Regions from separate parts of the Homo sapiens genome. Here region 2 is linked to region 1. Evidence: fine-mapped expression QTL. Tissue or cell type: whole blood. Region 1 holds a variant in brackets; the other region holds the start of a gene. All regions are shown on one strand. Distances are from middle to middle. Region 1 overlaps UCHL1-DT (UCHL1 divergent transcript). Region 2 holds the start of UCHL1 (ubiquitin C-terminal hydrolase L1).

Region 1 (16,060 bases):
CACTGTCACACGGTACTAGTTTTAGAATAGCTAACTCTTACTGACTATTTAGCATGTGCCAGATACTGGCTAAGCATTTTCCATAGGTTATTTAACTCAATCCTCACAACTACCCTATAAATGAAGCACTATTATTATCCCTATTTTATGGATAGGGAAAGTGAGGCTTGCAAATGTGAAGCAGCTAACTCAAGGCACAAAATATTCATTGGCAGAACTGGGATTTGAACCCAGGCAGTTTTCCTGGAGCTTGAGCTCTTAAATAATACTATGTATGGAAAAATGTAAATACAGAGAAAATGACTATAATGATTCTCAGATAAGAAAGGAGAGGGAGTATTGTACTTACTCTCCTAAAGATAAAACATAGTAAAATAAGTTTGTAGTCCACACTAGGAAAAAACCTTTTGCTAGCTAATAAATTATGGTCCCCAAATATAGGACCAATATTACCCAGAGGTATGAGGCAGATGATCAAATATCGAGTGATTTTTCAGGGGTACCAGCAAGGCCTCTTCTCTGATGAACCCTCTACGCCTGACTGGTTTCTCTAGTCCTAAACCATCCAATATGGCAGTCACTAGCCACATATGCTTATTTAATCTGAAATCACTTAAAATCAGTTAGAATTAACTCTTCGGTTCCTCTTTCATACTAGCCACATTTCAAGTGCTCAGTAGCATATGGCCTAATGACTACTGTATTGGATAATGTAAGTAAAAAGCATTTGCATCACTGCAAAAAATTGTATTCAACAGTGCTGCTCTGGGCCTTAATGTCATTAGGGCAATCCTTTAATCTCTCTTCATACTGCACTATTCCTGGGAGGACCATGTTTCCATGGTCTACCTTCCCATTGAGCTTCAGTCCTATTTTTCCAAACTAAAATTATTATTAGAGTGTAGAAAGGTACAAAGAGGTACAAAGCATAAAGTCCCCTACTATCATGGAAAGAATAGGGGCACTGGAGTAAGACCTTATTTCACATTCCAGCTCTTAGTAGTTGTGTGACCTTGGGCAAGCTACTTTACCTCACTGAATCTCACTTTTCTTATCTGCAAAATGGGCATGTTAATTTTTTCATTATAGGTTTATTTAAGATTAAATAACATATGTAAAGCTTCTGGTAGGCCTCACATAGGATGATTTCCTTCCTTCCACTCCTATTTCAGTTAATGACATTCCCCAATTACTCAGGTTTCTAAACTAGAAATCTCAGTCATCTTCAATTCTTCCTTCCTCCTCAACCACCCGCATTAAATTAATCACCAAGCCCTTTTGCTCCCAACTCAGGAATGCCTGCCTCTCAAATGTGGGCCTGCCTCTCTGTCCTCACTGTCCACTGTCCTCACTGTCTTTTCATGCATATTTCAGAATCCTGCTAACCAACCTTGATGACACCCATCACTCCCAATCCAAGCCCTTTCTTCACACCGCTGCCAGAGTGATCCTTCTAAAAAAAGGTGCTGATGATGTCATTCTTCTCCTTTAAAACCGCTGATGACTTCCAGTTGCTTAAAGATAAAATCTTAACTACTAAACTGAAGGACACATAATCAAACTCCATCACTCCATCACTGCTGCTTGTTTGGTTGGTAATAAAAAGAAAATTAAAAATATAACAACCCTTATTCCATTTCAAAAATATATTTGGATTCCTCTACTACCAACCTCTTTTTTCAGCCACCCCGTCCCCAGCTCATACCTCTCCCTCTACCCAACCCCCACTACACCCACACGCCAGCAACTTATGCCCATGAGGCATTCCTGCAAGCACGTAGTGGCCTTTCCCGACTCTGCCCTTGCACACAAATCTCAGGCTGGACTAACACTTTTACATATTCTTTATCTGGCAGAATTTTACTTACTCTCTAAGGTCCAGTTCAGATATCACTTCTTCTATAAAAGCTCCTTCAACTCCTTCAGGGAAAGGTGGACACCAGCTCATCTGTGATGCCATAGATTTGAGATAGATTGTAGATGCCGTATTTGGGCTACCTGGGTTTAAATCCTGGCTGCATCACTCTCCCACTGCTAGTTTTGGGCAGACGACTTAAACTCTTCACCCCTCAGTTTCCTCATCTGAAAACAATGATAATCATAGCATGAATATCTTATTGTTGTTACCAAGCATGTGAGATATTGCACGTGAAGCTCGTAACAATGTATCTGGCCCACAGGCAAGCACTCAATACAGATTATCTTCAAATTGTTCCCACTATTATTAATTATCCATCTTATCCTTTTGTCTCAATGTGAATTTTTTTTTACATTTTAAATAATTTTCAATTAAATTTTTATGTTTTACATTTACATTTGATTTTTATATTAAATACAAGTATTTTATTACAGAAGTACTTCATTATTTATTGATTAAAATTTAGGAAATTCAGATGACATGCCAAAGAGATTACATTCTCTATTGTATGAGACATCTCTTGGTTACAAGCAAAAGGAACTCATTCTGGTTAACTTACCCAGAAAAAATAATTTCTGAGAGAGTTGTCAGGCAGCTCACTGTCTCAACCCAAAGATGGAGAATCAGGTTAAGAAAAGGGTCGGGATCCATGGAGGACTGGCGGCAAATAACAGACAAGACCACGGCACAGTGTGTCACCAATGGCACAACCCCATGGGCCACTTGCTGTGGCCACAGTTCCTGAACCTTTGCAACTTAGCTGAAGTAGGAAGAGCATCTTATCCCCTCTCCCACTCACCCACCCCACGATCTTTACCTATATTTGGTCACACACAGGCCAACAAATCTTGCAGTTACAAACTTTGGTGCCTTTGCTTATGCCGTTCCTTTTGCCTGAAATAGTCTCGCTCTGTCACCCAGGCTGGAGTGCTGTGGCACGTTCATGACTCACTGAGGCCCCGACCTCCCTGGCTCAGCCTCCCTCGTAGCTGGGACCACAAGTGTGCACCACCACACCCAGATAATTTTTTTATTTTTCGTTGAGATGAGGTCTCACTATGTTGCCTAGGCTGGACTCGAACTCCTGAGCTCAAGCAATCCTCCCACCTTGGGCTCCCAAAGTCGTGGGGTTACAAGCATGAGCCACCACACCTGGCCTCCTCACTTCTTGATTCCAGAGCTTGCCATATGTTTTTGTAGCACTTCACACATAGTACAGTTAGATGTTGTATCATTCTTTGTTGCCATGCTGTAAATTCCTATCTTCAGCCACATCACAGAGAAGACACTTGATAAATATCTGTTTAGTGAATGAAAGGAAGAAAAAAATTAAATTAGTTTTTAAGGCACTGCACTAAGCACTTCACAAACATTAACTCACTGGGCACAGTGCCTCACACCTGTAATCCCAGCACTTTGGGAGGCTGAGGCCAGTGGATCACTTGAGTTCACAGAGTTTGAGACCAGTCTGGGCAACATGGTAAAACCCCTTCTCTACTAAAAATACAAAAATTAGCCAGGCATGGTGGTGCACACCTGTAATGCCAGCTACTAGGGAGGCTGAGGCAGCAGAATCGCTTGAACTCAGGAGGCAGGGGCTGCAGTGAGCCAAGATCACACCACTGCACTCCAGCCTGGATAACAGAGTGAGACTCTGACTCAAAAAACAAACAAACAAACAAACAAAACCATCCAAATGTTAACGCAATTTAGTCTCAATTTATAATAGTTTTTCCTCAGATAGGCTGATTACTCTTTTATAACAGAGGAAACTGAGGCCAAGGGAGTGAAATTACTTTCCAAAGGTCACACAGCTAAGGGACAGAGGCAGAATCTGAAGAAGGCAGTCTCGCTCCAGAGCACAGGCTTTCACCTAAAGAGATGTTATGACTCTGTGAAAGGTAGTACAGGGCCCTTTTTCTAGAAAAATTCTACCACATCTTTTTTTGTTATTTAAAGTGCTGACAGTGTCTTGGTAAGCAGAGAAAGCTAATTAAATGTTTCTGTACATTTTTAATATTGAAAAACATATTTAGTAAATTTCATAAACACGTATTCAATCATTCCTGAACAATGGTAATAGACAGCTCTATACACAAATTCATAGAAACTCAAATGAGCACAAAAGCACACAATAAAATTCATCACACTCTTTGTCTCTGCCCTTCCCCCAGGTTACCAGGAGTTGTTAGTGCAGACACTGGCATTTTATTGAACTGGTTCCGGCTACAAGGAATTTATGTTCTTATGCCCAGGGCAATCTCCTTCCCTGGTTATATGATATCTCTCACCACTCCTAGAATCCCTCTTTTGGTTATCATCAAACAGCAGAAACTTGACTCCAGAGCACCAATGTGCAGGGTGCCTCACAAGTAATTGTCTGCATGATAAGGGCAAGAATTTAAATCTTGTGAATAGAGGAAAACCATCACCTTCATGTTCACAGGGTACATAAATTACACCATCCAACCTGAAAAAATACTCCATTTTAAATTCATATAAACATAATTAAATAGGAATGGGGAATCTGAAATGAGGAACACTGAGAGAGAAGACATTTAAAAATAACTAGAAATCATTTACAAGAGAAAATGCTTTGCTCATCCCAGAGATAGATAAAATATATATTGCTAATTTGCAAAGACATTGATAGTCTTCTTGATCAAGCAAGGGATTTATAGTCTCCTTTCTCTATTTGTTCCTGCCAGTATCTTCACTTTTAAGTGCCTCATTACAAGGTCTGCAAAATAGGAAAAGAAAGGAAGATGGAGAAAAAAGATCTAAAGATTTCTTTTGCTTTTAAGAGCTTATTATAACAAGCAAACATTTGTCATTAGGTTAAATGAAAGAAAGCTAGCTCCTTACAAATATCTGAGATCATAAAAACCAAACTTGGTGGGGAAGGGACATTAGTATAGGAAGAGGTATGATTAAAAGTAATAGCACAGAATTAGTAGCTAATATGGAAGTTAGATATTAGCAAAAAAAAAAAAAAAAAAAAGATTCTTGGTAGGGTCAATTAGATAAAAGGAAAAACTTCAAAAGGATATAACAAGTGCTCCATCCCGTGAGACTTTTAGAATTAACCTGGACAAAGAGCTAGAATATATTTCGTAGAAAGCAATCTTTTCTGACAAGCTGGTAGATTAGCTCTAATTGATTTTTCCACCTCTAATTTCTTTGACTCGCTGAAATGCTATTTGTAGAAGACAAATGAGCTTTCCTTGAGGTTGAATTTTCTGTCTTTATTTTAATCAAATGAGATATGATTTCTCATGAAAATGGTTTCCAAGTCAATGGCTTTGCAAGTAATAATTTAACTCTTATTTAGACAATAAAAGTTTAAAAATCAAAGTTATAGCATTAGTAAACATGACAAATCACCATATATTTTCTTCCATCATGCACTGGCAAAATTCTTGGAATAAAGTTTCCAAGAAGTGAAGGAATAGGGTACAGGAAAAGTGGAGCAGGCTAATATTCTACCAGTTTTTACCTTTTTGTAAAAGGTAAAATAGCTTCATATCCTCTCTAGAAAGTTATCACTAATAGAAAAACACTTAGTTCTGTTGAAATTATGTTAAAGTTTGTATCAGATAACAGTTCTGAGAACATTAGGTACAATATCGTATGCATGTTATTTATGTTATTTGTTGTCATAAAAAGAGCAAAATTAAAAATGTACTAGAAAAAGTTTTGCCTAGAGTCTGAATTTTCTAAGAGAACACTTAGGGAAAGAGGAGAGGAAGAGGAAATACTAGGTGAGGCAGGGGATAGATCTCTTTCTCCTCATATATATATTATATATATATATTTAATATCTAAAGTCTTATATATATATTTCAAAGCTGTTTCTACAAATTTTAATGTGTTATTTTTTTCATGACTCAAAATATGACTAGAAAAAATATTCTAAATTTTTAAAATTTTTTTTACTTCAGGTCATAAAAATATTTTTCCCTATTACAGTCTGACAGGTTACAAGTTTTGTGTATTTTATTTTGTTTCGTTCTCACATTTAAACTTTAATTTGTTTTCTAATACACTGTGAAACAGGGATATAACTTTGCAAGCAGAAAGCCAACTGTTCTAATGCAACGTATCAAACAATCTTTCCATCGCTACTTATTTATAATGTCACCTCTATTATATGTCCAATTCTCATTGGTCTGTTCCTATGCTCTCTATTCCCTTTCATAGACTACTTCTTCTATTAGGGTGGTAATATTGCACTATTTTTGTTTCTATACCTTTGTAATATATCTTGATATCTGGTAGTGTGGGTCTCTCTTCTCTGTCCTGGTTTATCAAAACTGACTTAGCTCTTCTTTCATAATATCTTTTCCACATAGAATTTATACTTCCAATATCAATTTTGATGAAAAATCTTTAGAATTTTATTGGTATTAATTTTTTTTTGAAAGAGATTCTTCTCTTTTGTTATTCCTAAACTGTTTGGTAGCAACATTCATTTAACAAACATATTTGCATACCTAGTAAGTAGTAGGCAATGAGTTGGTTATTGTGCTATTTGGCCTGTTAGTCCAAAAATAGTTAAACTATCAGAGTATTATAAAAGACACAAGCCATTAATCAGGCTCATCCTGGCTGACTGTTTTGGGTTGAATTGCATCCACCCAAAAAGATATGTTGTTGTCCTAAGCTAGTATCTCAGAATGAGACCTTATTTCATAACAAGGCCAGACAGATGTAAATTAGTTAAGATATGATCATACTGGATAGGGTGGGCCCCAATCCAATATGGCTGGTAGTCTTATAAGAAGACAACTACGTGAAGACACAGGAAGAATGCCCCCAGGAAAATGGAGGCAAAGATTAGAGCGATCCATTTATAAGCCAAGGGACACTAAAGATTGCTGGCTGTCAAAAGAAGCTAAGAGAGAGGCATGGAATAGACATGACCTCAGAGCCCTCAGTAGGAACCAACCTGCTGACATTCATTTTTATTTCAAACTTCTAGCATCCAGAACTGCAAGGGAATAGACTTTCGTTTTGTGTGCTTTGTTATGGCAGCCCTAGGAAACTAATACACTATTCATTCCAAATAAATACCTTTATAAATAGTTAAAAATTATACAGGAAATTTTTTTTAAGACAGTGTTTCACTCTTG[T/C]TGCCCAGGCTGGAGTGCAATGATGCAATATCAGCTCACTGCAACCTCTGCCACCTGGGTTCAGGCGATTCTCCTGCCTCAGCCTCCCGAGTAGCTGGGATCACAGGCATCCACCACCATGCCAAGCTAATTTTTGTATTTTTAGTAGAGACGGGGTTACACCATGTTGGCCAGGCTAGTCTCGAACTCCTGAGCTCAGGTGATCCACCTGACTCCACCTCCCCAAGTGCTGGGATTACAGGCGTGAGCCGCCTCGCCCAGCCAGGAAAATGTTCATTAACCTAAACTAATATCTATAAACTTTAGAGACAGTCAGAGGTGTCAAAGACAAAATAATGAAGTCCAAATAATTCTTGCAAAATGTTACTTTCTTTTTCTGTGATGACATATTGACTGCACTTTAAAAACTCCCTAGGTCCAAAAAGTGACTTTACCTCCAACTTATTTCAGTATTGATTTTGTGAAAATATGTAGAACGAACACGAAATCTGATAAATGGATCCTTCAAATGTGATTGCAATAACAAGAGGCACAATACATGTCTCAAGTTTTGGAGTACAATCTCCCCATAGGTATTGGCCTCAGACAATCTTCTATATTTCAAATATAACTAATCCTATTGCCAGGAGCTTGGGGGAAGGGGGGAATAGGGAGTTACTGTTTTATGGATACAGAATTTCAGTTTTGCAAGGTGAAAAGAGTTCTGGAGATGGATGATGTTGATGGTTGCACAATAGGAATGTACTTAATGCTGCTGAACTGTACACTTAAAAATGATTAAGATAGTCAATTTTAGGCCGGGTGCGGTGGCTCATGCCTGTAATCCCAGCACTCTGGGAGGCCGAGGCGGGCAGATCACGACGAGGTCAGGAGATGAAGACCATCCTGGCTAACACGGTGAAACCCCGTCTCTACTAAAAATACAAACAAATTAGCTGGGTGTGCTGGCGGGCTCCTGTACTCCCAGCTACTCAGGAGGCTAAGGCAGGAGAATGGCGTGAACCTGGGAGGCGGAGCTTGCAGTGAGCCGAGATTGCGCCACTGCACTTCAGCCTGGGTGACAGAGCGAGACTCCGCTTCAAGAAAAAAAGGAAAAAAAAGATAGTCAATTTTGTTACATGTATTTTACCACAATGTTAAAAAATAAAAAAATGTAAAAAGTAAGCCAAGCTGGAAAAAAATGTATATATAATTAATGTTCCATCACTGCATTTGAGAACATAGGTACATAGTTCATACAATAATCTATGTTTACAAAGTAATTCTCATTTTTTTAAATTGAGGTTGGCGATGACCCGCCATATTAGGGCACCTCAAGGCATAGGGCTAGAGCAGGCCAGAGCAAAAGAGAAAATGCAACTCAAGAGTCCAGGAGTATTCCCTAATCCAATACGGCTGGTATTCTTTTTTTTTTTTTTTTTTTTTTGAGACGGAATCTTGCTCTGTTGCCCAGGCTGCAGTGCAATGACGTGATCTCGGCTCACCGCAACCTCTGCCTCCCAGGTTCAAGCTATTCTCCTGCCTCAGCCCCCCGAGTAGCTGGGATTACAGGCACGCACCACCACACCCACTAATGTTTTTGTATTTTTAGTAGAGACGGGGTTTCACCATATTGGTCAGGCTGGCCTCGAACTCCTGACCTCGTGATCCGCCTGCCTTGGCCTCCCAAAGTGCTGGAATTATAGGCGTGAGCCACTGGGCCCGGCCATGGCTGGTATTCTTATAAGAAGAATATAAGAGGCTGGTGATGACGAGGACTAGAGGATCAAGGTGATATCATCAGAACTGGATCTTTCTCCAGCTCCATGTCCTGCCTCTCTTTTCTGTCTGAGCTGAATTACCCTCTTGCAGGGCCCCTTTCCACAGTGGCTCTAGGTCCTCAGAGTGGTTAAATTCCTGCTTGAGACAAAAGACCTGCCTTCCTTGATTCTTCCTGACTAAACAGATCCTAAGAACTGGGAGTCAGTCTCTCTTTCTTAAACTGAGTTCTTTATACCATGGGAACATACAACACATTCTAGGAATTATTGGAAATCACAGGATAAACCTACATCCTCCTGGAGTGACAAATGTGTTAGGAAATTTGGAGAAAATACTTGATATTAGAACATATATATAGACCAGGCACGGTGGCTCACGCCTGTAATCCCAGCACTTTAGGAGGCCAGGGCAGGCGGATCACCTGAGGTCAGGAGTTCAATACCCTGGCCAACATGGTGAAACCCCGTCTCTACTAAACATACAAAAATTAGCTGGGCATGGCGGCGGGCGCCTGTAATCCCAGCTACTCAGGAGGTTGAGGCAGGAGAATAGCTTGAACCCGGGAGGCAAAGGTTTCAGTGAGCCAAGATCGCGCCACTGTACTCCAGCCTGGGTAATACAGCGAGACTCCGTCTCAAAAACAAAAACAAAGACAAAAATACACACACACACATACACACACATATATAATGAAGTAGACTAAAAAGTGGGCAAAAGTTTTTTAGATGAAACACAAGATGTCAAAAGGCACATTTCTCCGGAGGCAGGCAACTGGGGACCTCTGGAGCTCAAAGTTCTGCTGTAAGGGGTAGGTTAGAGGGAAAGCACAATGGGAAAGCTGGATGAGCAGACTTTGTGATGGCTGCTTTGAACCAGAGAGGAAGACAGGCTCCATCCCGCAGGCCAAGCAAGAAAAGGAGAAAACCTGGAGCAAGCCTGGGCCTTCATAGTTCCATGAAACGAACCTATGATAGGCTTTTGTACTTTCCCGTGTAGTAACTAACATGCTTGAGGGCTTCCTATTTGCTAAACGTTGTGCATATATGAATTCACTTAATCCCAGAGGCATTCTGTGAGGTGGGTACTGTGAGTATTCATATTTTCCATATGGGAAAAATGAAATTCAGAGAGGTACAATAACTTTCCTAAGGCAACTGGAAAAATATGTGAGTATCTTCATCTCTTTCCACATTTTGTGTCTTCTCCATTTTGTGCTAATAGAATGTAGGACATACAAAAATAGAGAGATCCAGGAACTTGTTATCTCTAAAATAAAATGTCACTGAAGTCAAAAACAGCTAAAATCAATGCTTGAATTAGAACATCTCATTTCCTACCTCTTATCCTAATGTTCATTTTTATACTTTTGTTCTCTTGATTTCATGTTTTTCAACTGGATGTTTTAATAGTAAACTTTGACTTCCTTCTTTACTACATCTATCTGTCTGCCTGCCTGTCTGTCTGTCTGTCCGTCCGTCTGTCCATCCGTCCATCCGTCCATCCATCCATCCAACTATCTATCTCAAAAGACACATTTTTTCTGAGGCAGGCACTTGAAGGCCTCCAGAGGTCAAGGTTCTTCTGCTGTAAGGGGTAGTTTAGTGGGAAAGTTTGATGGAAGAGCTTGGTGAGCAGAGTCGGTGATGGCTGCTTTCAACGTATATATTTCTCTCTTATAACCTATATAAATGTTGCCCTGTGTATAACCTCTTTGGCCTGGTATGCTACATAAAAATAGAGAAACATATGAACAAATAAATAAAAGATAAGTTTGACAATATTAGAGCTCTGAACAAGCAGGTTTCATGAGTACAGAGGTCATAAAGAATCTCTTTATAAAGGTTGTATTTTTTTATGTCTTTATTAATTTTCTAGGTTCCATGTACACAGTTCATTTTCCTCTAAAAAAATTCCAATGTTGTTTCAGTGTCTCATAAATACAAGCTCAAATCTATAATTTGGAAACTTTTAGGAGAAAAGATTAAGGCTGGCTATGCCTCATCAATAGCATTATTTTTTTTTAATGTTTAGTACTTTGTTCTTACTCTGCTGTGTTGCTGGGCGTACATCTGGGAATAGGAGGCTTATAGAGCCAGACTCTAAAGATGATTTCTATTCCTTTCTGACTTAAATGTTTTTTCTTTCTCTCTATTTCTCTCTTTCCCCCACCTTTCTTTCTTTCTTTTTTGAAACAGGGTCTCACTCTGTCACCCAGGCTGGGGTACACTGGCGTGATCACAGCTCACTGCAGCCTTGAACTCCTGGGCTCCAGTGATCCTCCTGCCTCAGCCTCCAGCGTAGCTAGGACTACAGGCATGCCCCACCATGCCAGGCTAATTTTGTTTTATTTTTGTAGAAACAGGTTCTCACTATGTTACCCAGGCTGGTCTCAAACTCCTGGCCTCGAGCGATTCTTCCACCTCGGCCTCCCAAAGTGCTGGAATTACAGACATGAGCCACCGCACCCAGGGCTGATTTATACTCTCGTAAATCTGGCTTATGTATCAATTAATGTTCATACTGACATATTTCCCCACAGTATTCTAGTTTGCTTTTGTGGCATGGGAGCTAATGCCATTTCATCTCCTTAAATACTCTGCCCCAATAGATATAGAGCATTATTTTACATATGTTAGTTATCCACAATATTCAGGAACTTTGTTGAAATATGTGGTTTCTGACACTTGACATGCATAGAGAACAGTAGTTGCACAAAATTAAAATCATTTTTTAAAGAAGATGATTGAAAACAGTGGGAAAGTCTTTCCCCTGCCTTTCTGATAAGCATTCCATAATTTCAATACTTTTTAAGGCTCTCATTTTATTGCTTATAAATTATTTTATATCTTTCTATTTTTTATTTTTTTATTTTTTTAAATTTTTATTTATTTATTTTTTTGAGACGGAGTCTCGCTCTGTTGCCCAGGCTGGAGTGCAGTGGCACAATCTCAGCTCACTGCAAGCTCCGCCTCCCGGGTTCACGCCATTCTCCTGCCTCAGCCTCCCAAGTAGCTGGGACTACAGGCACCCGCCACCACGCCCGGCTAATTTTTTGTATTTTTAGTAGAGACACTGTTTCACCATGTTAGCCAGGATGGTCTCGATCTCCTGACCTCGTGATCCACCCACCTCGGCCACCCAAAGTACTGGGATTACAGGCGTGAGCCACTGTGCCCGGCCCTTTCTATTTTTTTAAACTTGTTTTTCAGTATGTAAACAACTCCCAACCCACTAATCAAACTTTGCAGATACTAAACTAGTGTTTAGGATAAAACTTATATGATCTCTTAAATATAAGCCTAATAAATACATTCATTAGAAATCAAGCTGTAACAATGTGGCAGTTTTAGAAAATCACAAACCAAATTCTTTTGCTGCAATTTCATGCATTACCTTGACAATCTAGGCCACCTAAAATATAAAGCGGTGGTAACAAAGGTGATGATAATTCACTGCAAAAGAGAAAACTGAAGTGGAAAAAAGCCCAACCAGCCAATGGTTTCCTTTAACCTAATTTCAAGTATATTTCTAAAGAGGACAATAATTGAAGGGAAATCAAAGGCAATTTCTAAAAAAGTAGATTTCTCTATTCTGACAAGTTGAAAGAAATTGTTGAAGGAAACTTTTGCCAAAACATACCACATTGGATCTTCTGCCTGAGGTCATTGTCAAAGTTGAGACTTCTGAAAATGCAGTATTAGTGAAACGTAAAATGAGTCATATGCTCTTTCCAATAGCCACATAAATAACGAAGAGGCATGTGGCATAGTGGGTTCTGTCCTACTTTGGCTACTTGCTGGCATTATAACCTTTGACAATTCATTTAACCACTCAGGGCTTCACTTTCAACACATTGAAGTGACAGGTGGCACTGGGTTGGAATTCCAGGTCCATCTCTTATTACTATATCATTTTAGGAAAGTTACGTGACTTCTATGAATCTATTTCTTCAACCATAAGATGTGAAGAAGACATCAAAAATTATTTGGGGCCAGGCGCAGTGGCTCATGCCTGTAATCCCAGCACTTTGGGAGGTGGAGGTGGCAGGCTCACCTAAGCCCAGGAGTTACGACCAGCCTGGTCAACATAGCAAGACCCCCATCTCTTAAAAAAAATTATTTGGAAGAAGGAAGGCCAAAAAATAATACATAATGTATTATTCAATTTACATAAAACTCCAGAAAATGCAAACTAATCTACAGTGACAGTAAGCAGATCAATGGTTATTTGGGGACCTGGGAAGCAGAAAGGGTGGGTGGAAAGAATTACAAAGGGGCAAGGAAACTTGAGGTGGTGGATATGTCCATGATCCTAATTTGGTGATAGTTTCACAGGTATATACATCTGTCAAAATTGATCAAATCACACATTAAACATTTAAAACATTTATTGCATGTCAATCACACCTTTCTTAAAAAGGGTCAGAGAATTCAATGAGATAGTATGTGAAAAACAATTAGTGCAGTGCATGGCACAAGTAGGCCTCCAGAAATGAGTCCCCACCCCCACAACCCCAGCTTCATTTATGTCACAGGGCTATTTAAAATGGTATTCTACTTCATAAACCTCCGTGAACTCTGAAATCTCCTTTGCGTTTTGTAGCTTGATAAATATTTTCAAAGAAAAATATGGGATAATATGAAAATACCTCTGCAGCTTATTTAGGATATTATTTCTGTGGGTTTTTTTCAAATCTTCATTAGAGGCATATTTTGCATTGTTGGAATCACACTTTACATAGGACTTGCATGCTACTTCTCAACTCCATGGTTTACCTAAGATGTCTGCAAACTATTTTTTCCTTTTTTCATTATTATTATTATTATTATTTGAGACAGGGTCTCATTCTGTCATCCAGGCTGAAATGCAGTGGCCTGAACACAGCTCACCACAGCCTTGACCTCATGGGCTCAAACTATCCTCCCACTTCAGCCTCCCAAGTAGTTGGGACTACAGGCGTGCACCACCACGCCTGGCTAATTTTTGTATTTTTTTGTAGTTACGGGTTTTTGCCATGTTGCCCAGGCTGGTCTCAAACTCCTGGGCTCAAGTGATCCACCCACCTCGGCCTCCCAAAGTGCTGGGATTACAGATGTGAGCCATCATGCCTGACCCACAAACTATTTTTAATGACTGTCTCATGATTTTCTTAGGGCTAAGAATTCCTGATATATTTGAAGGGAGAATTGCCAGGATTTACTGACAGATTGAATTTGGGATGTGAGAGAAAGAGGACTCAGGGATGACACTACAGTTTTTGGCCTGAGCAATTAGAAGTTTGATGAAGCTGACATTTTCTGAGAAAGGAAGAATTTGTAAAGGGCAGCTTCGGTGGGGAACTTCCATTTTGAGGAGAAGTTAGGTATTAAACATCGCTGGAGTAGGCAGTGGACCTGAGATCCAAGGGGAGGTCCAGCTGGAGATATAAATATGGGAGTCTCCAGCATAAAGACGATATTTAAAGCCATGAGTTGGATGTGGTCTTCAAGGGCATGAGTATAAATAGACAGCAGAAGAGGCTCAACAACTGAGTCATGGAGGCCCCCTAATGGCTAGATCCTGGAGTTGAGGAGGAAGCAGTAAAGGTGACAGAAAAGGAGTGCGATCAAGGAGGAAGGAGCGTAGGCTGTTTGGAAAGCCAAGTGAAGAAAGTGTTTATAGGAGAGAATGATGCTTATCACTCAAGTAAGAAGAGAATGAAAAACATGCTCTTAAAACAAAGGGTAGTTATATCAAGGGCACTATGAGTAGAGTGGATTCAAAAGGTTATATCCTAGGAAGATACACAAGTGGCCAATGAGCACAAGAAAATATTCTCACCATCATTATCCATCAGAGAAATATACATCAAAACCACAATGATGTACCACTTCACACCCATAAGGATGGATGAAATCCGAAGAAAAATAACGTGTTGGTGAGAATGTGGAGAAATCGGAACCCTCATACACTGCTAGTGAAATGCAAAATGGTGTAGCACTTTGGAAAACAGTTTGGCAGTTCCTCAGAAAGTTAAACATAGAGTTACCATATGATCCAGCAATTCATCTACTAGAAATATATCCTAAAGAAATGAAAACATATGTCCACACAAAAACTTGTACATGAATGTTCATAGCAACATTATTCATAACAGCCAAAAACTGGGAAAAAAACAAATGTCCAGTGTTCAGCAAAAAATTAAGAGACATAAAGAGAAACAAGAACGTATAGCTCATACATGATGGGGGAAAGTAATCAGTAGAAACTGTCCCAGAATTCCAGATGTTAGACTTAGTAGACAAAGACTTTAAGTCAGCTATCTTAAATATGGTCCAAGAACAAAAGGAGTTGATTTCTAAAGAACTAAAAAAAGTATTAGAGCAAAGTCTCACTAAATAGAGGTTATTAATGAAGAGATAGATGTTATAAAAATAAAAAGTGTCAACAAATCCACTCAAAAGTGTTTTCTTTCGAGAAAAAGGAAAGAGACTTTATTCTAGCAAATGGTTTGCAAACCAGAGATACACAGGCTTTGATATAAAATGAAGGTGTGTTCAGACAGAACAAAGAAAGTGCTTGTGTTTTATAGAGTTCTTGCGCAGGCTACCACTCTGGTCTACTTATGCAAACGATGGATGCAAACTTGCTTAGTTCTGCTTGGTTGAGGCTTGCTGAGTTCTGATTGGTAGCTGCAGGTTACAGTCTTTGGTTGGTTCAGGCAGCATAAACAGAACAGCAGCTACGAAGTCTCAAAGTTAAATAAGTGTGGGGGCTTGCCAGGAACTCAGAGTATGTGTTGTCAACTGAAGAATCATAAGGTTCAAAAATTTGGAGAGGAGAGCTTTATTTCTTATAAAGGGTTGTGGCCAGGTGCAGTGGCTCACGCCTATAATTCCAGCACTTTGGGAGGCCGAGGCGGGCGGATCACCTGAGGTCAAGAGTTCAAGACCAGCCTGGCCAACATGGTGAAACCTCGTCTCTACTAAAAATACAAAAAAAATTTAGCTGGACATGGTGGCGCGAGCCTGTAGTCCCAGCTACTCGGGGAGGCTGAGGCAGGAGAATCGCTTGAACCCAGGAGGTGGAGATTGCAGTGAGCCAAGATTGCACCACTGCACTCCAGCCTGGGCAACAGAGGGAGACTCCATCTCAAAAATAAATAAATAAAATAAAAAAATAAAGGGTTGCAATCTGCACACTGGCCATCTGCAGGCTGGGCAGTGTAGCCTTGGGCAGAAACTGGAAGCAGGCACTTTGAGGGAGGGAA
Region 2 (16,060 bases), 27 kb after region 1:
CCCAAGCTGGAGTGCAGTGGTGCCATCACAGTTCACTGTGACCTCGAACCCCTGGGCTCAAGTGATCCTCCCACCTCAGCCTCCCCAGTAGCTGCAATTACAGGCACACGCCACCAAATCCAGCTAATTTTAATTTATTTCTCGTAGAGACGATGGTCTTGCTATGTTGTTCAGGCTGGTCTCGAACTCCTGGCCTCAAGTGGTCCTCCTGCCTTGGCTTCCCAAAGCAATGGGATTACAGGCATGAGCCACTACACCCAGCCATCTTTTTGTTTTTTAACATTGCACATGGTCAGATTTGATAAGCTTCACTGTCTCTATCTCAGTTGCTAGTGATTGGAGAGAACTCTATCATCTTCAGTCCATTAGCACAGTGGACATTCTGAATAGCGATCCCATTTAAAATCCTACAGAACACTGAACGAAACAAAGGACTCAGTCTTGAGAGGTTAGATCTCACCAGTCTTAAGAGACTAGAGGCTTTGGTTATCTAACTATGGGAAAGCTTGCCCCTGATTTCTGCTCTGGCTCTACTCTGGAATACGGAGATTGGTCCAGTCAACTGGACACGTGGGATTGTCTTGCTAACCATGAATATTGTATTTCAAGCTCTTTGTTAAGTGTTATAAACTGCCACTTGTTTGAGTGACAAAGAATTAGGACTGATATTTCCATTTAAGTGAAAAATCTGAAGACTGACATTTTGTGCTAAGTGACAAAAATGGCAGCAAAGTCAACCTAAATGGTCTAATAAAAAGAACAAATGCTAGAGAAGATAATTAATCACTCAATACCAGGCCGAAGACAGGAGTGCAGGGGATATGATATACTAGTCAAGTAAACTAGCTCTGCAGTCAGCCTTCTGGGGTTTGGATTCTGGTGACCTTAAGCACAGTACTTCATCTTGCTAAGCCTCATCTTGCTAAGCCTCAGTCTTCTCATCTGCAAAATGGAGAGGATAACATTACGATCCTCATAGAGTTGTTACTGGAATTACCAGTGCCTGGCATATAGAATGTGTGCAATAAATGTTGCTGGACTTCCAGCTATGGGAGAGTAAGGAAACTGATAAATCATCTCTCCCGAAAATAATTATAAAACTGGATAAAATTGTCAAGGAGTATCATTTTAGGGTTCTGGAAACCAACTAAAAGCAAAGAACAAATTGAAGAGCATATATCCACCCAAAAAATGCTGGGCTTTGGGCAAGAATGAAGGTGTCTCTGGCATTCTTGCATGTTCATTCCTAAGGATCCCTCTCACCCCCAGCTTGGTCAGCACAGTAATTTTACCAGGGTGGAGCTGGCCTTGAAAGCCAGCAGCAGACAAAGTGATGACTTGATTTGGAGTGAAGGGCAGGAAATCTATGCCCAGCGGTGAATGAGAAAAGCCTTCAGCTCTCCTAGCCTGAGGCTGCAGTCTCAGGTGAGGAAGCTCCTGGAAATGAGATAGCCATTGAAAACTCAGATACTAAGCTCTCATCCTCAGATGTCTGGGTGCCTGTACACATGCAGTAGAGACCCAAGAGAGCCTAAGAGAAAGCAAAGGTGAAGACAGATTTGAAAACTTTTCAAACTTGGAATGCACTCCCCAAACCAAACACAAATCCACAGCAAAGCATGGAAACCTTGCAGGCTCAAGGTGTTTGAGCATAATCTCTCACCAGTCACTGGCTGATAACTCAGCTACGAGACATAGGGTCATTCTTAGAAAGACAGGTAACACAGGAAAATAAGAATTTTTTTAAAACCCAAACTGAGAAGAGACATTTTTTTAAGACCCAAACTGAGAAGAAGGCAGCTACACACTGGAGTGATCCTTTATGTAGAAAATCCTAAAGAACCAACAACAAAATGACTAGAATAAAATAAGGGTTTAGCTAGGTTGCGGGAATATAAAAATCAATTGTATTTTACATACTAGCTATGAGCAATGTGATACTGAAATGAAGAAAACAATTTCATTCACAATGGCATCAAAAAGAATTCACAATGGCATCAAAAAGAAAAAAAACCTAAAAATAAATTTAGCAAAAGAAGTATAAGGCTTTTATACTGAAAACTACAAAATATTACTGAAATAATTTTTTAAAGCTCTAAATAAATGGAGGACAGTCCATGTTCATGGCCAGGGAGACTCAATATTGTTAAGATGGCAATTCTACCCAAATAAATATATAGATTCAACCTAATCTCTATTAAAACCCCGAAAGGCTTTTCTTGAGGTGGGGATTGAAATTAACAAGCCTGTCTGCAGATCCAAAAATGTATATGAAAATGCAAAGGACTTAGAATAGCCAAAACAATTTTAAAAAGAAAACAAAGTTGAAGAACTTGCATTACCTGATTTCACAACTTAACTATAAAATCATATTAATCAAGGCACATAGTAATCAAGATAGACAAATCACTCTGTGGAACATAATTAAGAGACCAGAAATAAATCATTACATTTATAGTCAAAAGATATTTGACAAAGATGCCAAGGCAAATGAGTGGACAAAGTATAACCCTTTTAACAAACAATGCTAGGACAATTAGATACACATATACAAAAAAATGAATTTAAACCCTTACTTTACTCCATACACAAAAATTAACTCAAAATGCATCACAGACCTAAATGTAAGAGCTAAAACATTAACACTTCTTAACAAAAAATAAATAAAAGAAAATCTTTGTAACCTTGGATTAGGCAAAGATTTCTTAGATGACCCATAAAGGAAAAACTGATAAATTGGACTTCATCAAAATTAAAAACTTTTGTTCTTCAAAAAACACTACGTACAGCTTGGGGTGGTGGCATGTGACAATAGTCAATAGCCATGAACCAATATTTTGCCCAAGGTGTCCTTGAACTCTTATCTCAAGCCATCCTACCACCTCTGCCTCCTTAGGCCAGCCTGGGCACAATAGTGAGATCCTATCTCTAAAAAACAAAACAAAAACCTACTCAAAAACACTGAGTAGAAATTTAAAGTCACAGAACAGGAGATGGTATTTGTAAATCAAATATTTGATAAGGATCTAGTATTCAGAATATATAAAGAACCATTATAATCCATTAATAAGATGAAAAACTCACTAAAAATGGGCAAAAGATTTGAATAGACATTTCACCAAAAGAAGACACTTGCATGGCTAATAAGCACCATGAAAAGATGCTCAACATCAGTTGTCATCAGGGAAATGCAAATTAAAAGTGCAGTGATACCACCACATACCCACAGTAAAGGCTCTAGTCAAAAAGACATTGACAACAGCAGATGTGGCAAAGATGTGGAGAAACTGCGACTCTCATACATTGCAAGTGAGAATGTAAAATAGTACAATTGCTTTGGAAAACAGTTTGAAAATGTCTTAAAAGGTTAAACATAGAGTTACCATTCAACCCAACATTTCCACTTCTAGGTATTTAACTAAAAGAAATGAAAACATTTGTCAACATATAGACATACACAAATCTTCACGGTAGTGTTATTCATAGTAGCTAAAACTAGAAGCAACCCAAATACCCATCAACCACTGAATGGACAACAAAATGCGATGTATCTGTACAATGGAGTACCATCCAACAATAAAGAGAAATTGACCTCTGATACATGCTAGAACATGAAGGAACCTCAAAAGTATGCTAAGTAAAAGAAGCTAGACATGAAAGACTAAGTATTGCATGATTCCATGTATGTGAATGTCCAGGAACGTCCAGGATAGGCAAATCTATAAAGACAAGAAAACATAAGTAGTTGGCTGGGCTGGGAGAGGAAATTGACTGCAAAGGGCAAGAGGGAGCTTTTGTGGGTAATGGAAATGTTTTAGAACCTGATTGTGGTGATGGTTGTACAAATGCATAACTCTACTAGAAAGCGTTGAATTGTACACTTACAATGAGCGAATTTTATGGTATGTCAAATGTACCTCAATAAGCTGTTAAAAAGTGTTCCAATTACCTGAGAAGATAATATGTTTGAATAGAAACCCATCAAATGTTTGACAGAGCAGAAAATTCGTCTATTACTTCTCAGCCTCAAACTACATCCTTACGCGTGGTCAGATTCAGCTACTTAACAATGAGTGTCTGTTAGTTATCAGAATCATCAGAAGGTAGTTTTTAAAGGGTCCATCCCAAATCTTCATTATTGTAAGAAAAATAATGCTTATGATAAAAAATTCTATTGCTGGTGAATCAGAATCTTTTTTTTAGAAAGAGCAACATATTCAGGCCGGGCATGGTGGCTCACACCTGTAATCCCAGCACTTTGGAAGGCTGAGGTGGGTGGATCACTTGAGGTGAGGAGTTCCAGATCAGCCTGGTCAACATGGTGAAACCCCATCTCTACTCAAAATACAAAAATTAGCCGGGCGTGGTGGCGGGTGCCTGTAATCCCAGCTACTCAAGAGGCTGAGGCAAGAGAATCACTTGAACCTGGGAGGTGGAGGTTGCAGTGAGCCGAGATCGTGCCACTCCAGCCTGGGCATCAGAGTGAGGCTCCGTCAAAAAAAAACAAAAAACACATATTCATCCATTGATTTTGTTTCTCTGCCTGTATACATACTCAGTGGAATCTAAAATGCTTAGGATTATAAACAAGAAAACTGGGACCCAAAGATCACACCATTCTTTAGAGGCAGAGTCAGGAAGACTGGAATCAAGGTCTTCTAAATAATCATCTATAATGTTCACCATCACACCAAATTGCATCTTTACTTCTTTTTCCTTTGAAGACACACAGAACCATATTCTCCTCAGTACTTTGTGGGTATCTCAATATCAGTGAAAAGAAATTACTTGGCTGGGCATGGGGGCTCACGCCTGTAATCCCAGCACTTTGGGAGGCTGAGGTGGGTGAATCACCTGAGGTCAGCCATGCCTGGCTAAAAATACAAAAATTAGCCAGGCATGGTGGCGCACGCATGTAGTTCCAGCTACTCAGGAAGCTGAAACAGGAGAATTGCTTGAACCCAGGAGGCGCAGTGAAGTTGCAGTGAGCCCATTGCGCTGCTGCACTCCAGCCTGGGCAACAAAGCAAGATCTGTCTCAAAAAAAAAAAAAAATTACTTACTGAGGAAAATCACAGAATATTAAAGCAAAAAGGGATCTTGGAGTATATATTCATCCAAAAAAATGCTGGACTCTGGGCAAGAACAGAGGTGTCTGTGGCGTTCTTGTATGTTCTTTTCTAGGGGTCCCCCTCACCCCCACACCAGCTTGGTCAGCACACTAATTTTAACTTTTCCTTCCTTCCTTCCTTCCTTCCTACCTACCTACCTACCTACAGAGTTTCACTTTGTTGCCCAGGCTGGAGTGCAGTGGTGGGATCTCAGCTCACTGCATCCTCTGCCTCCCAGGTTTAAGCAATTCTCCTGTCTCAGCCTCCTGAGTAGCTGGGATTACAGGCGCGTGCCACCACGCCAGGCTAATTTTTATATTTTGAGTAGAGATGGGATTTCACCATGTTGGTCAGGCTGGTCTTGAACTCCTGACCTCAGGTGATCCACCTGCCTCGGCCTCCCAAAGTGCTGGGATTACAGGCATGAACCACTGCGCCCAGCATGCTTTCTTATATAAATTAATATTTTCCTCTGATTTCTGTTTGTCTTGTATTCTTAAGATTTCAAACTTCCTGCCCATCCCCCTCCAGCAGAAGTTCTTTCTACCACATCATTAACAGATATTCATCAAGTCTTTAAAAAGTTCCAGGTATGATGTGGCAGACACTGGTAGCTGCCTGTCCAGTAGCCTTGCCCCTACCCTATTCCTTGGTAGCAAAGCCCACCTTACTTCTCGGAGTCTAAAAATGCTACATATTTACTTTCTCAGCCTCTCTTTTGACTAGTGCATGAATATGTGATTAAATTCAGGCCAATGCTACCTAAAAGGAATTCTTCAGGAGGGTGGGGCTTCTGCAAAACTTCAGACTTGAGAAACAGCAAGAGTGAAAGAGAATATCATTTTCCTTCTTGCCTTTGGACCTTGTGTGAGGATGTGATTCTTAGAACTTCTGTAGGTACCTTACAACCATTATAGATGACACTTTCAACAATAACGTAAAGACAGTGGACTGGAAAGACGGAAAAACCCTAAATTCTTGATAAGATCATTGAGCCATGTGTGAACTTTGTCAGAATCAAAATGGAGTCACTTGTGTTAAAAAAACAGGCTGGGTGAGATGGCTCACACCTGTAATCCCAGCACTTTAGGAGGCCGAGGCGGGTGGATCATCTGAGGTTGGGAGTTTGAGACCAGCCTGACCAACATGGAGAAACCCTGTCTCTACTAAAAATACAAAATTAGCTGGGCGTGGTGGCACATGCCCGTAATCCCAGCTACTCAGGAGGCTGAGGCAGGAGGATCGCTTGAACCCGGGAAGGGGAGGTTGCGGTGAGCTGAGATCGCGCCACTGCACTCCAGCCTAGCAACAAGAGCGAAACTCTGTCTCAAAAAAAAAAAAAAAAAAAAAAAGATAAAGAAAAACTTATCCAGGTGTGGTGGTGCACACCTGCATACCCAGCTACTCAGGGCGCTGACACATGATGATAGCTTGAGTCCAGAGTTCAAGGCTGTCGTACACTATGATCCTGCCACTGCACTCTAGCCTAGGCGGCACAGCAAGACCCTGTTTCAAAACAAAAACAAGACCAGTCGCCGTGGCTCACATCTGTAATCCCAGCACTTTGGGAGGCCGAGGAGGGTGGATCACCTGAGGTCAGGAGTTCGAGACCAGCCTGACCAACATGGTGAAACCCCATCTCTACTAAAAATAAAAATTAGTCGGGCGTGGTGGCACATGCCTATAATCCCAGCTACTCGGGAGGCTTGAGGCAGGAGAATCGCTTGAACCCGGGAGGCGGAGGTGGCAGTGAGCCAAGACTGCACCACTGCACTCCAGCCTGGGCAACAAGAGCGAAACCCTGTTTCAAAAAACAAAAACAGAAACAAAAAACAAACAAACCACAAAAAGCCTCTGACAAATAGAGCTGGGAAAAGCCAGGAAGAGAATGATTCTCATGCATAAATGCCTGATAACAAAAATTATCACAAAAGACTGCAAAACCCACAACTTTGTACAAAGGCCATCACGATCTTACATAAAAAATCCTTCTGCAAGGACTTGTGCCTAGAAACTGCTTGTCCAGCCTCAGACTGGTGTCACCCTTGTTATTGATCCTTGTAGCCAAGGATAATTATTTCAAAACAATTATGTAATATTCCTCATTTGTCCTTAAAAAACCTTTGTCTTCTTGTATCTTCCTGAATATACACACAGTTTACTATGGCATGTGTATTTCCATTGCAATGCCCTATTCCTGAATAAATATCACTTTCTTTTAGAGAACATTTCTCTGTTATTTATGTTGACACATGGACAACCCTAGAACCACCAACCTCCAGTCATTGAGTTAAGAGAGGGAATTCATGTCCTAAGCTTTCAGTCAGTTTTAGTTGGGTATTCTGCCCTTGGTAGACATAGTATAATACAGCGGTCCCCAGCCTTTTTGGCCCCAGGGACCAGTTTCATGGAAGACAATTTTTCCACGGACTGGGGGTGGGAATGGTTTCGGGATGAAACTGTTCCACCTCAGATCATCAGTCATTAGATTCTCATAAGAAGCACACAGCCTAGATCCCTCGCATGTGCAGTTCATAATAGGGTTTATGCTCCTATGAGAATCTAATACTGCTGCTGATCTGACAGGAGGCGGAGCTCAGGCAGTAATGTTTGCTCACCCGCCGCTCACCTCTTGCTGTGCCACCCAGTTCCTAACAGGCCACAGACCTGTACCAGTCCTCAGCCTGGGACTTGAGGACTCCTGGTATAATATAGTACAGTGGTCAAGAGTGCAGACTGTCTGTGGTCAAATTTCAGTTCTCATGACTTAAATAACCATAGGCAAAGAACTTAACCTTTCTGATCTTCATTTCTAAATGAGAATAATAATAGTAACCTACCTAATAGGTTGTTATGTTGATTAAAAGAGTTAATACACAGAAAACACAAAGAAGTAGTGCCTGGCATCCGTAAGCAATCAGTAAGTGTTAGCTATGATTATGCTGCTAAAAGCATGCTCACCATTACATGTGAAGAATTTACATAAATGTTGAACCACTCTAATTATTAAGTGCTTTCTTATATAAACTAATATTTTCATCTGACTTCTACCTGTCTGTCCTGTATTCTTAAATAATCATAAAGATTATTCTCGCCCTCTTTGTATTTTTGAGCATTTGGTATCATGTAACTCCCCTCCCCATCCCCCAAACACACACACAAACCCTTTCTCTTCTCCACATCATATACTGTCTTCTCAATTTCTTCAACCACCTTTGTTCATTATTTTGGCGCTCAGTCTCTGAAAACTCTCTAATATGTCAATGTCTCTTTTGAAGTGTGGTAGTTCGAATTTTCAGTTGAAAAGTATTTATTGAGTGTTCATTATATGCCAGGCTGGGCATCATAATCCAGTTATAGTCTGGTCAATTCTGTGAGTGGATTAGATCTTGAATATTATATTAATCTAGCCAAAGGTTAGCAAATACCTGGTTATCCTTACCACTTCCCTTTCCCATACTCGTGGTAGACATCACTAATCAATCACAGCATTTTTCCCCCTACTGGACTCAGGACTCTCCTTCAGGAACCTATGATTAAAATGAAATTGAATCTCTCACTCCTGGTATAAATAAAGATTGCACTAGCTTTATAGTCAAATTATGACACCTGAAATATTTGAATCTTTTTCTCAGGTACTGTTCACAAAGCCAGATCTAATTCATTAATGCATCTGTAAATGATTTTTTTTAAAAAATGTTTTTCCTTCTGATCTCTGTGTATTTATTTTTAAAAGGTTACAATCAAACTATTGTGTTGTTTTCACTTGATATTTTCCAAATTATTTCATACTTTTGCAATCATAGCATCAAGAAAAAAGTTAATATAAAGATTAACTGTATGGCAATAATTGACAACTGTTACTATAATATAGAGCTTTACACATATTCCTGTTACATTTTTAATAGCTTTATTGTGATACCTAAACCCACTTTTTAGTTTTTTAGTATATTCACAGGGTTATGTAATCGTCACCTAAATCCCTGTTAAATTTCATCATTTTATTTTAAACTTATTTTTTAATCCCAAAATTCTGCCATTTATTATGTATTTATTTATTTTAAGAGATGGGGTCTCACTCTGTTGCCCAGGTTGGAATGCAGTCATGCCATCACAGCTCATTGTAGCCTCGAACTCCTGGGCTCAAGCAATCCTCCCACTTTGGCCTCTCAAGTAGCTGGGACTGCAGGTACACACCACCACACCTGGCTAAGAATTCTGCCATTTAGACTGCTTGTTCTTGCTTGTATGCACGACCTCTCTTTTTCTCTGCTGTAATAAAGTGGCACCAGACAAGGTTAAAACCATTGTCAGGTGGCTACAGGTTGAGGTAGCTCCATCCAGTACCACTTTTTTTTTTAAGGTAGAATCAATTAAATAAGCTATAAAACCACCTCAACTGTGGTATCAACCAATGCCAACCCTGGCAGCATAAGAAATACAATGACAGTGTTCTACCTGTCCATCCAGTTAATAACCCCCAAAGAAAAGAAGATAAGTTCTGGCTGGCATAACTTGTTCTAAATGCATCCATCTTATTGTTTCTAAAAGTAAAAAATTATGAGTCCTAACATTTGGCTAATGACTGATATAAACTCTTCTGGCCTGCAGTTTCAGCAGTATATTCCCAATCACCCCCTACTTCTTCTTCTTCTTCTTTTTTTTTTTTTTAAAAAAGATTAGGCTTAGGTTTGTTCATATCCAGTCTCTGGCATCTCTTTGTAAGCAGGGAGTTGTTTCATTCACTGCTCTGATGCTTCCTGGCAAACAGTAGGCCATATATGTATATGAATGTGAATGAATTAATGCCTTCAACAAATATTTCTGACAGTGATTTCATGACTGCTTTTATTAGTTATTTTGGCAATCACTTATAACTGCTAACGTCTGCTTGCCGATCAGCCCTTAGCTTAAATGTCACTTCCTTCAGGACGCCTTCCTGATCCCCTCCACTAGGTTAGGTGCTCCTGATCTCTGCTCCCTTTCATACAACTCTTATGACTGATAAAAACAGCACGAGGGGGCCAGGCGCGGTGGCTCACGCCTGTAATCCCAGCACTTTGGGAGGCCGAGACGGGCGGATCACGAGGTCAGCAGATGAGACCATCCTGGCTAACACGGTGAAACCCCGTCTCTACTAAAAATACAAAAAAAATTAGCCGGGTGTGGTGGCGGGCGCCTGTAGTCCCAGCTACTCCGGAGGCTGAGGCAGGAGAATGGCGTGAACCGGGGAGGCGGAGCTTGCAGTGAGCCGAGATCGCGCCACTGCACTCCAGCTTGGGCGACAGAGCGAGACTCCGTCTCAAAACAAAACAAACAAAACAAACAAACAAAAAAACGGCATGAGGGAAATTTCCATGTTTATTGTGTTCATCTTTGTATGCCTAATTCCAAACTTTCCAAGCTCGGCACCCAGCACACAGTAGGTTCTTAATATTTGTTGAGTGAATGAATAAATGAAGTAAATTGGAAATGTAATTTGTCTTTGTCTAAAGGCAAGAACTCATTCAATATAACCTAGTCACTTGTCTTGACCTTCACCTCTTTTTTTCTTTAACAACCTTATTGAGGGAAAATTTACATACCATAAGATTCACCCATTAAGCTCCTCTTACTAATTTTTTTCTCTCTCATTTTTGTGTGTGAAGGTCATTTTCTAATGGCAAAAATGGAAAGAAAATAGAAGTAGAATGTTGTGGAATCTTAGATAAAGAATGGGCTCTTGGAGCCCAGTTTAGCAGGGTTTACTTCTCAGTTTTACTTTTCAATTGTGACCGTAAGCAAATTAACTTCTCTAGGCCTGGGATTCTGATCTGTAAAATTGCACTAATATGAGTCTCTTCACGGCTCCTCTAAGGATTAAATGAGAGACACATGCAAAGGATCCCCAAAAACAATAACTCAAAAAATGTTGATTCCCTCCCTTCCCTCTGTCATCTGTTAACCTCAACTTCCTAAATAGAAGGTCTATTCTTTTACCATCATCATTATTCTCTTCGGTGCCTATTTTTAAAAAATACTCAACCTTCTTGCTTCCTTCGCTACCTAAGTATTTCTGCAAGCCCACTTTGTTCTGCAGCTTAGCTTTCCTGGCACAATTCTTATAGATTTTGGTCCCTTTTAAAATTCATTCTTCAGCAAATGCTTTCTCTCTCCATCTTTTGACTAGAGATCATTAGAGATCACCTGAGATCATTAGAGAACAGTGGTTTCCTTGGTTGCCATTCCCTTTCTTCTTCATTGGGAGTATTCTGCGGTGAACTCAGACATTTTATTTTTCAAAGCTTCCCATTCTTTTAAAAATGCTTTTCCTTTTACAGCCTCTCGCTCAAAATCATACCCATCTTTTCCCTGGATCTGTTTTCTCAAGTCTCCAATCGCCTGCCTTCTTTGTGTCTTGTATTACCCTCACATCCCCCAGCTTTCTACTGCTCTCCCAGGACCAACCATTTCTTCCGCGGGAGTCACATTACATCAGCATTCCTAATGCAGTATCTGTTATCTACCAGATTCTGTTTTATTCTAGGTAGTCACTTAAAAACGAACCTCGGTACTGGTCTGACTTAACATGGAGGAGGAATTGTCTAAGGTTAAACGCAAACTGCTGAGAGATTTGGGGCGGGGGGCACACATTTACATTCATTCGTATTAAATATATACCTGTTGAATTTGTGCTTTTTCTCAAATGCTTCAGAGACTCGAGCTTTAGAGTAATTGGGATGGTGAAAGGATGGGTTTCCAGAAACTTCGCCCAAAATTAAAGACTCCATCAAAAGGACTGCTCCATACACTCAAGGAACACCCACCAACAAATCCCGTCTCCACAACCACCAGATTATCTCACCGGCGAGTGAGACTGCAAGGTTTGGGGGCCCGGCCGTACCACTCCGCGCTGCGCACGGGGGGTTCGTACCCATCTGGCCGCGACCGTCCGTTTCCCCCTCGCTTGGTTCTGCCCCTGCTCCCCCTGCACAGGCCTCACAGTGCGTCTGGCCGGCGCTTTATAGCTGCAGCCTGGGCGGCTCCGCTAGCTGTTTTTCGTCTTCCCTAGGCTATTTCTGCCGGGCGCTCCGCGAAGATGCAGCTCAAGCCGATGGAGATCAACCCCGAGGTGAGCGCCAGGTGCACCGCTACCCGGAGAGCGCGAGGCCGAGGGAGGGGGAGCCGAGTCGCTGATCGGTTCGGTTTTGCCTTTTTCTTTGCATTTGCCTTTCAGATGCTGAACAAAGTGAGTGGCGTCTCGCGCCGTCTCTGGCCCCCTCCCCCGCGAGCGCCGAGGCGGGGGCGCCCACCGGTTCCGGCTGCTGGCAGGGACCAAGCCGCCCGCTGCGAGCACCGGAGACGGCCGGGCTGGGGCGTGGGCTGGGCGCCTTTCCTGGGCCCCTGCATTTAGCGGGTGACTCTACGAAACCGGTCACGGGGAGACGGAGGGGGCTGCGCCCCGTGGCGAGCGAGCGCCAGGCGGAGCTCCCGAGGGCGTGGCGCGGGCAGCACAGACTCGGCTGCACGGGCTTCGCGGGCGCCACGTGTGGGCCGCGCTTTGTGCTGTGTCATTGCGCCGGCCCGGGTGGGGGTGGCAGGGCGGGACTGGGGCTCCTCCCAGGCTCGGGTGCGGGCGCGGAGGGCGCGCGCCTCCTGGCCCCGCCCCCTGGCAGGTGCCCGCGACCCGCGTGTCCCCGTGCGCCTGGCCGCCTTGTCTCCTCTCCGCAGGTGCTGTCCCGGCTGGGGGTCGCCGGCCAGTGGCGCTTCGTGGACGTGCTGGGGCTGGAAGAGGAGTCTCTGGGCTCGGTGCCAGCGCCTGCCTGCGCGCTGCTGCTGCTGTTTCCCCTCACGGCCCAGGTAGGGCGTGGGGCCCAGGATGCGCCGGCCGCCGGCAGTGCACGCCGCTCCCCAGCTTGAGTCCTCGGGGGCTCCCCGCCCCGCCCCCTCCCCTGTAGGTGATGCGGGGCGCGCCTACAAGGAAGGGAGGAGCCTGCATTTTCGTGGTACCTACTCCCTGGGCTCCTGTTCCAGCGGTGCCTGTCGCCTTCTTGCCCATCCGTCCACAATTGCCTTAAATTTGGAAGAGAGGCAGTATCTCAGTTCCATCTATCCCGTTATCCAGGGAAATCATTCATCCTACTCATGAGTTCCCTCGAACTTGGGCTTTTTCGAGCCTCCGGTTCCGGGGAATGGCTGCTGGTTTCCCTTTAAGGGCTATAACCTGTCAACTCATTGTTTGCTTCTCAGACTCCCACCTAGCTGTAGAATGGAGGGGGAAGGGCTGACCTAAATCGCAGGGAAACAATTAGGTTCGCTAATTCTCCGCCTCCATTACTTGGGTTTCTGATGGTCTTAAGGGGTTCTTCTCTCTTCTCCACTCCCACCACTTGCACACTTGGTTTTTAGCCTCTTGAATGTATTTCTTAAAGCTTAATCATTTTGTGTATGGTTTCTGTGTGGGAACCTCCTTCCTCTTCACTTATCCTTGTTCATCTCTGACCTTGTAGCTAACTGAAATAGGGGGTTATTAGCTCAGTTTTGAAAGCACCTTTGCATTTCCCTTGAAATGATTTTCCTCCTACAAGTGTGCATGGATAGATGTATCTGAAAGACAGCGTCAGATTTTTTTTTTTAAAGGATAGCTAGGATATTTGCAGTCTTGTGATGTATGGAATCCCAGTCATTAGCGCATGGCATTGTCTTATCTCCTATTGCTGTCACTTGACCGCTGATGTGGGAGTGACTGAAATTAGCTTTAGCAAAACTTGGGGCATCACTCTAAAGAGTGAGGTTAACTGAAGCACCGTCCTAAGGCTAGGTGTTCTGGAAGCATCTGTAGCCAAAATCAAGAGTATGGGAAGTTCCAAGCCTTCCTCCTAGTAAGTAAGCTAAGTATTGTGGGTAAAAACACTTATTTACAGCTAATAAGATGATCTCACTGACATGTTTTTATTGCTAAAGTCTTTTACTTGGGCTAAAAGGAAGATGCCAAATTGTTGGAAGTCGAATTAGCTTCCTGGTTGACCAAATCAGTCTCCTGTCTCCAGTTGAGCATCACACAGAGGTTTTTTATTAGAGCAACCATGATGACTCGGAGGTTTTGAGCAGCATTCAGAGGCAAGGCCTCTGGGAGGCAGTGGTGCAGCATGTTTGCCTTTAAAAGCTGACTGTTCTCCTTTTGCTGAATCTTGTTTAGAGAACATTCTAGTTTGTGTTATGTTTGAAAGAGCTCGATACTTTGTCCTTTAGTTTCAATTCAACCTATCAGATTTATCGAGCGCCTATTCTGCTACACAGAATGCCTACTGGACAAAACACTGAAGCCGATTGAAAGAAAAGTTGAGGTTTTATAGGTTGACTCCAAAGATGCTAATGTTAATTTGGAAGGCATTTAATTTTTGACTAAGGGAATGTTATGACCCCCTACATGGACCACTTCTGAAACATTAAGTGCTAGTAGACTATTTACAGAATGATTTCCATGGAAGAGCTCAAGCAGCCCTAAAGGATGGTGCTATCCCATTTTAACATTTCATCTAATTAGCCTAGAAAATGAAAAACACTTACTGGTCAATGAATACTAAGTTGAGGATCCAGTTAGATAGAAGCGAAAAAGTTCTGCTAGTTGGAGTTTAAGTTGATCTTCTGGGGTAAGAGATCTTACTCTTCTATTAGTACCAGAGAGCAAGCTTAAACTTCAGTTCATGTACAGAAATGCAAAGCTACTAGAATTGGAAATAGGTTTCTGATGGTCTGTCTGGTTTTGCTCGTTATGGGAAATCAGTGTTTCTATAGTGTTAGTACCCTACTCTTTAACTGGGAAGTCCTAACTTATTTATTATATTTTTATTTTTTAGAGACAAGGTCTCAAACTTCTGAGCTCAAGTGATCCTCCTGCCTCAGCCTCCCTAGTAGCTGGGATTATAGGTGCAAGCCACTGACCCTGGCTCAAGAAATCATAACTTCTAAGGTCTTTAAAGCTAGTTAGTGAAAAGTCCAGATAGGCTTACTAAATTACTATACAGAAAGCTAGCAGATGCTTTGAGGAAATCCGTTTCCTAGTCCGATTCATTTACCAGTCTCTATCCTCCTCCTCAAATTGCCAGTCTGTCCTCAAAGTAAACTGTTTAGCTGGCAAGGACAAGCTAGTGTCACATCTTCCTCTTGTAAAATCACAGCCCAATACCCTGGATCAGTTGTCTTTTCCTTAAAAAGAGGGCGGAGGTAATGGTTAATTTCTTTCACTTGTTCTTTTCAGCAGTTAAGGCCGTTTTTGTTTTTGAAGCGAAGTGTACTTAAGCCGAGTAGAAGTAGAACTTTAAAGAATAATGAAATGTAAACCAGCTGGTGCTCTTGTTGGGCATTCAATTGACTGAAGCTTGATTTAGGATGCCTATGTGAAATAGTTGTTAAGTGTTAAAGGGAGAAAATAATGAATTGGTTTCTTTGTTTTCTGACTTCGTGACACCATTTTGGGCTGAAAGGTTGCAGTGGTGTCTAGACACAGCCTTGGGCAGTATCCAAGGCAGTCACTGCACTGCAGCACCAGGGTGGAGTCTCCGAACCTCTCAGAGCCCCACTGGCTGGCGTGGGTGGTGTGGGAGGCAGACAGACGGGCCCTTCTCTGGGAGTCAGCCAACATCTAGAACCAGGGGTTCTGGTCACACATCCCACTGGTGTTTCCATTTAGTTGGTAGAACTCATGTGCTGCCATCTGTTCTTTGCACTTTCATTCTGAGATGTAAAAACGCTTTTTACATTCGCAGCATGAGAACTTCAGGAAAAAGCAGATTGAAGAGCTGAAGGGACAAGAAGTTAGTCCTAAAGTGTACTTCATGAAGCAGACCATTGGGAATTCCTGTGGCACAATCGGACTTATTCACGCAGTGGCCAATAATCAAGACAAACTGGGATTTGGTAGGTGTGGGTTTTGAGGCCAGCCATCCTAAGCTTGAACTTGAAACATGG

What was found.
Region 2: it holds the start of UCHL1, and the variant in region 1 is fine-mapped to the expression of UCHL1 in whole blood (TOPMed, PIP above 0.99).

Annotation. Positions count from the first base shown.
Region 1 is chr4:41,218,267-41,234,326 of GRCh38, forward strand. UCHL1-DT (UCHL1 divergent transcript) reads right to left here. Exons shown (of 3, transcript NR_102709.1): 2 at 3,071-3,218; 3 at 1,808-2,082. Among named protein-coding and RNA genes, the nearest start is that of APBB2, 12 kb to the left of the region's middle. The variant T/C (reference allele first, on the strand shown) is at 7,051.
Region 2 is chr4:41,244,789-41,260,848 of GRCh38, forward strand. UCHL1 (ubiquitin C-terminal hydrolase L1) reads left to right here and starts at 12,140. Exons shown (of 9, transcript NM_004181.5): 1 at 12,140-12,221; 2 at 12,327-12,338; 3 at 12,821-12,949; 4 at 15,859-16,009. The coding sequence starts at 12,189. UCHL1-DT (UCHL1 divergent transcript) reads right to left here and starts at 11,939. Exons shown (of 3, transcript NR_102709.1): 1 at 11,771-11,939. RefSeq lists a silencer at 12,256-13,015 and an enhancer at 12,850-13,350.